2 separate regions of the Homo sapiens genome follow, and region 1 is linked to region 2. Evidence: fine-mapped expression QTL. A gene starts in region 2. The other region holds a variant in brackets. All regions are shown on one strand. Distances are between the middles of the regions.

The links. PIP is the estimated chance that this variant, and not a neighbour inherited with it, causes the effect. A credible set is the group of variants that fine-mapping cannot tell apart.
Region 1: its variant is the best candidate, but not a certain one, in a credible set for the expression of MFN2 in whole blood (INTERVAL, PIP 0.86).

The regions. Positions count from the first base shown.
Region 1 is chr1:12,000,267-12,003,174 of GRCh38, forward strand. It overlaps MFN2 (mitofusin 2), which reads left to right. Exons shown (of 19, transcript NM_014874.4): 9 at 1,135-1,288; 10 at 1,503-1,570; 11 at 1,716-1,837. Among named protein-coding and RNA genes, the nearest start is that of MIIP, 18 kb to the right of the region's middle. RefSeq lists an enhancer at 532-1,461. The variant C/T (reference allele first, on the strand shown) is at 1,275.
Region 2 is chr1:11,978,816-11,981,723 of GRCh38, forward strand. MFN2 (mitofusin 2) reads left to right here and starts at 1,629. Exons shown (of 19, transcript NM_014874.4): 1 at 1,629-1,669. RefSeq lists silencers at 1,245-1,504, 1,675-1,914.

The DNA of each region.
Region 1 (2,908 bases), 21 kb after region 2:
ACTGCAACCTCCACCTCCAGGGTTCAAGCAATTCTGCCTCAGCCTCCCGAGTAGCTGGGATTACAGGCACCCGCCACCACACCTGGCTAATTTTTGTATTTTTAATAGAGATGGGGTTTCACCATGTTGGCCAGGCTGGTCTTGAACTCCTGACCTTAAGTGATCCGCCCGCCTCGGCCTCCCAAAGTGCTGGGATTACGGGCGTGAGCCACTGTGCCCGCTTGTGACTGACACTAGGCAGTGTGACTTTGTTAGCTTCCTTGACCCTTCTGGTAATCCAATTTCCTGGCCAGTGTGATGGTGTGATAAATAGACTTGTTGAGAGGATGAAATCTGTCAAAAACACCTGACACGTGGTAGGTGTCTACAAGAAGCTATTGTCACATTTTATCGGTAGAACCCCAGGATGTCAGAGCCAGGAGGGATGTTCTAGTGATGCCCACTCCTTTTATAAACAATGCCCCAGGAGGACACAGCTTGTCAGAGTATAGGTCCCAGATTTAGGTTTCTTGACCTCAGGGTTCCTTTCCTGCCAGGGCACCAAAATGAGGCACTATATAGGCTTAACAAGAGGCAGTCTAGGGCACGTTTAAGCATTTCTGCTTGTATATGCATAAAATATCTTTGGCACGCTCACTGCCAAGTAACCCCCACACGTTGGTCTGGGAAACTTGGTGGTGAGAGAGCAGAATAGTGGGGGACATTACACTGTGTATGTGTTTGTGCCTTTGGCTGTTGAGCCATGTGAATATATTGCCTATTCTTTTTTTTCCCTCACTCTGTCGCCCAGGCTGGAGTGCAGTGGTGCTATCTTGGCTCACTGCAACCTCCGCCTCCAGGTTCAAGTGATTCTCCTGCCTCAGCCTCCTGAGTAGCTGGGATTACAGGCGCCTGCCACCATGCCTGGCTAATTTTTTTGTATTTTTAGTAGAGACAGGGTTTCACCATGGTGGCCAGGCTGGTCTTGAACTCCCGACCTCAAGTGATCCACCTGCCTTGGCTTCCCAAAGTGCTGGGATTACAGGCGTCAGCCACCATGCCCAGCCTCTTATGACCTATTCTTTTAATAAAAGAGGCAGGTGGGGGCTGTGGGGCCACCTACACTCACTCTGGACACATTTGTTTGGGCTCCAGGTGCGGCGGCAGCACATGGAGCGTTGTACCAGCTTCCTGGTGGATGAGCTGGGCGTGGTGGATCGATCCCAGGCCGGGGACCGCATCTTCTTTGTGTCTGCTAAGGAGGTGCTCAACGCCAGGATTCAGAAAGCCCAGGG[C/T]ATGCCTGAAGGAGGTAATGATGAGAACAGATGTCCTCCTTTTCTCTGATGTTTGAGACATTTTGTCTCGTGCTGAGGAGTCTGTCAGTAGAAAATCCTTCTGAGAAGGGGATGCTGAGAAGAGCAGAGAGGCTCTTGCTCTTTAGCCAGTGGCTTGGTTTCTGGGGATTTCATCGTTTTCCTCTGCTGCCAAGTTGTTTCTGGACTAATGCAGTACAATCCTCCTAGGGGGCGCTCTCGCAGAAGGCTTTCAAGTGAGGATGTTTGAGTTTCAGAATTTTGAGAGGAGATTTGAGGTGAGTCCTCTGATTCTGGTATCTGGCGATTCTGTGCCTCCCCAGCTCCCATTGGCTGTGTCCCTGGCAGTGAAAACCAGAGTCTGGCCCTTGGTTGTAGGCCCCTGGTGGCCCCCACCTCCCTCCGTGCCTCTGTGTGTTCCAGGAGTGCATCTCCCAGTCTGCAGTGAAGACCAAGTTTGAGCAGCACACGGTCCGGGCCAAGCAGATTGCAGAGGCGGTTCGACTCATCATGGACTCCCTGCACATGGCGGCTCGGGAGCAGCAGTAAGAGTCCAAGACTGCAGATAGGTGGAGAGAGCTGCCGAGACAAGGGTGCTCCACCCCTGCCTTGGGCAGTTAGGACACGCCTTGATGGCAGGGCTGAGTCTCTGGGCTCCCATCCAGAGCCCTTTCCCTGGCCACCAGACCATGTTAGAACCACATAGACAGCCTGGTGAGGAGGGCGGCTGGGTGCTTCATCACCCCACCTGGTCTGTGCAGCACGATTCCCTGTGTTGGAGGTCTTGGCCCATGCCCTGCTGAGCTCTGCAGCCATTCTCAGAGCCTGAACACATTTTTCAAAACAACATTCCAGCCAGGAGCAGTGACTCACACCTGTGATCTCAACACTTTGGGAGACCAAGGCAGGAGGACTGCTTGAGGCCAGGAGTCCAGCCCAGATAACATAGTGAGATCCCATCTCTACAAGAATTTTAAAAATCAGCTGGGTGTGGTGGCACACACCTGTAGTTCCAGCTACTTGGGAGGCTGAGGCAGGAGGATCACTGGAGCCCAGGAGTTCAGGGTTCCAGTGAGCTGTGATCGCACCACTGCACTCCAGCCTGGGCAACAGAGTGAGACCCTGTCACTAAAGAATAATATGAAAACACCTTGCTTCTATCACACAGAATTGACTTTCTCAGTTGTTTATGTTAAGTTAAAATTTTAAAAAGTTCAGTTCCCTTTTGATTCTTTTGCACTTGTCCCAGTGTCACTCTGCCCTGAGGCACCATAATCATGAATTTACATTGTTCTATCACCCAAACAGTACTTTTTACATAAATGCTGAGGAATATGTCAGGTTTTTACATGCTTCAGATGTACAGATGTGGCATCACACTGTCTGTCACTGTACCTGGCTTTGCTTTCTCAACATCGTTTTTCCCTCTATCCTTGTTAGTATGTGTAGTTTGTTTATGAATCGGAACTGCTGTAGTATATTCCATTGTGAATATGCCTCATTTTCCTATGGATGGAATTTTAGATTTTTTTTTTGCTATTGGAAACCCTACTGCAGTGGACATTTGTTCATGTGTCCCCTTGTGCACCTTTTTAAGAGTCTTCCTGGGGTGAGTT
Region 2 (2,908 bases):
AGCTACTTATGTAATTTTAAATTTTCTAGTAGCGACATTTTTAAAAAGAAACAGGTGCAATTAATCTTAGTAATGTATTTAACCCAAATGACCCAAAATATTATCACTTCAACATGTAGTCAGCATATAAATAGTAATGGGCTAATAGCCCTGCACTGTGGCAGGTACCTGTAACCCGGCATTTTGGGAAGCCGAGGCAGGAGAAGATTGCTTGACTCCAGGAGTCCAGGAGTTCAGGACACCAGCCTGGGTAACAAAGTGAAATGCTTCCCCATGTCTACAAAAGATAAATACTAGGCATGGCTGCAGCATCTGTGGTCAGCTACTTGGGAGGCTGAGTGAGGTGGGAGGATTACTTGAGCCCAGGAGTTCGAGGCTGCAGTGAGCCGTGATTGCACCACTGCACTCCAGCTTGAGTGAGAGTGAGACTCTGGCTCAAAGATAGATTTTTTTTTTCTTTTTTGAGACGGAGTCTCTGTTGCCCAGGCTGGAGTGCAGTGGCATGATCTCGGCTCACTGCAACCTCCACCGCCCGTGTTCAAGCGATTCTCCTGCCTCTTCCTCCCGAGTGCACTATCATGCCTGGCTAATTTTTGTATTTTTAGTACAGACGGGGTTTCACCATGTTGGCCAGGCTGGTCTTGAACTCCCGATGCACCCGCCTCGCCCTCCTAAAATGCTGGAATTACAGGCTTGAGCCACCGCGCCCGGTCGATATTTTTTTTTCCTAAAAATTGAGATAGTTTAACAGCCTTTTTTGTCCTAAGTCTTATAGCGCATCTCCGTTTGCACTGGCTCAGGACTCGAGAGCCACACGTGGCTAGTGCCTACTGTTCTGGCGCGCTCAGGCTTGGAGCCTTCTCTGCGGAGGCCAAGTCCTGCAAGGGATCTGTTTGCTGCGGTTTCCTAGTAGTGTCTGCCGCATCACTGGGGCCCGGTGATCTGGGTAACCATGTGAGCTTGGGTAACCTCTCCTCTCCCTCTCCTGGGACTGCTGTGGACGTTAAATACAGCGGTGGATGTTAGAGACGCAGTTCAGTCACTGGCATTGATTCGCCGTTGTTGCTGCTCTTCTTTCCTCAAAGGCGACTGAAGGGCAGCAGGCCCATGCTCGCTTCTGTCTGCCCGATGAGTCACTTCACCCTAGGCCTGGCCCTCTAGAGAACACTCCTCTAAGATTACAGAATGCAAATCTGGATTCCAGAGCTGGCAGAGGCCCCAGGGTCAGGCTCTAGGACAACCGGCGAAAAAGCGGGAACCTCTACTCCACGCCCTTGGTTTTTCGCCCCTTGACAGCTTGAGGCTCCGCCCCGCTTTGCCCCGCCCCCCCAGCTCCGGCCGACGCCCACCGGAACTACAGCCCCCATGATGCAGTGGGAGTCCGAGCCTCTGCGTCGTCCGCTTGGGACGCGCCGGCGGAGGAGTGGCGCGCGGAGGAGTGGCGCGCTGAGACGCCGCTCGAAGCGCCGAGTCGCGGGGCAGCAGAGGCGTAAGGAGTAGGCGGGGCGAGCCGGCTGGGCTCAGGGTCCACCAGCTCACCCGGGTCGAGGGGCAATCTGAGGCGACTGGTGACGCGCTTATCCACTTCCCTCCTCCCGCCTCCCCCTGGGGTGGCGCTCGCTGGTGACGTAGTGAGTGTGATGGCCGCCGCGAGGCCGGGAAGGTGAAGGTGAGAGGGCGAGCAAGCCGGGGTGGCGGGGACTGGCCCGGCCCGGCCCGGCGAGTCCTGAGCAGCTCGGCGTGGGCCGACGGGATTCTGGGGCCACGGGGGTCTGGGATGCAGTCAAGCGGGGTCCCCACTCTCCGGCCTCGCCGCCGGGCCCTCCCCGGCCCTGAGAGGAGGGGGCGGGCCACGGGACCTGGGACTGGTCGGTGGGGTCCCCTGTAGCTTCTCATCGCCCCCGCCTTTCCACCCTTCACGGCCATGTTCTACCCCTGCCCCTTCTCTATTTTTCATCCTGTCTTCATTTTGCCAGCATTTACTCAGCACCTGATAGGTGTCCACGTTCACCGCGGGAGCGCCCTGCCATCCCCACTTTGGGCAGTTACTGCCTTCTCGTTCAGCCCTGTTTACTTATATGACTTCTCACCGGACTGTAAGGCCCTGGAGGGCAGGACTGTTTCTTATCCATTTCTAACGTGGCGCCTGACACACACAGAGAAGGCACACAGAAAATGTTGAATAAATAGCTGTTAAGACGCACGAAGGCAGAACTGCCCGTTACCCCCTCTCGTAATCCTTCATTGCCCTCTTTAAATTCTCAATCATCTCTCTCTCTTCTACCCAGAAAAGGGCTCTGGTTATCTCTTTTCTACCCAGAAAAGGGCTCTGGTTATCCGCCTCTGGTGTCCCAAGGTTTGGGGCTTGGGGGAGGAAGGCAGCTCAATGTAGTTAAAAAAGGAAGGAGGCCGGTCGCAGTGGATCACACCTGTAATCCCAGCACTTTGGGAGGCTGAGGCGGGCGGATCACCTGAGGTCAGGAGTTGGAGACCAGCCTGGCCAACATGGTGAAACCCCGTCTGTGCTAAAACCAAAAACTAGCCGGGCTTGCTGGCACACGCCTGTAATCCCATCTACTCAGGAGGCTGAGGCAGGAGAATCGCTTGAACCCGGGAGGCGGAGGTTGAGCCGAGATCGCGCTGCTGCACTCCAGGAGCTTTGGAGTCAAAGGGAGCTAATATTTCAGATCCCAGCTTAGACAAATCTTCAAGTATTCCAGCCCTCTGTCCCACAGAATAGAGAATTAAGTGAGATACTTTACAGTAGCTGAACACATTGGCTTTCAGTCAGTTCTTCTGTTCCTCAATAGTCAGCTGTTCCACAGTCCTCAAGCCCAGTTTTGTTCCTAGTTTTGCTCTGTCCTCTTCTCCCCTCTCTGGATGTACCTTTCCCAGGGCTCCTGCAGGG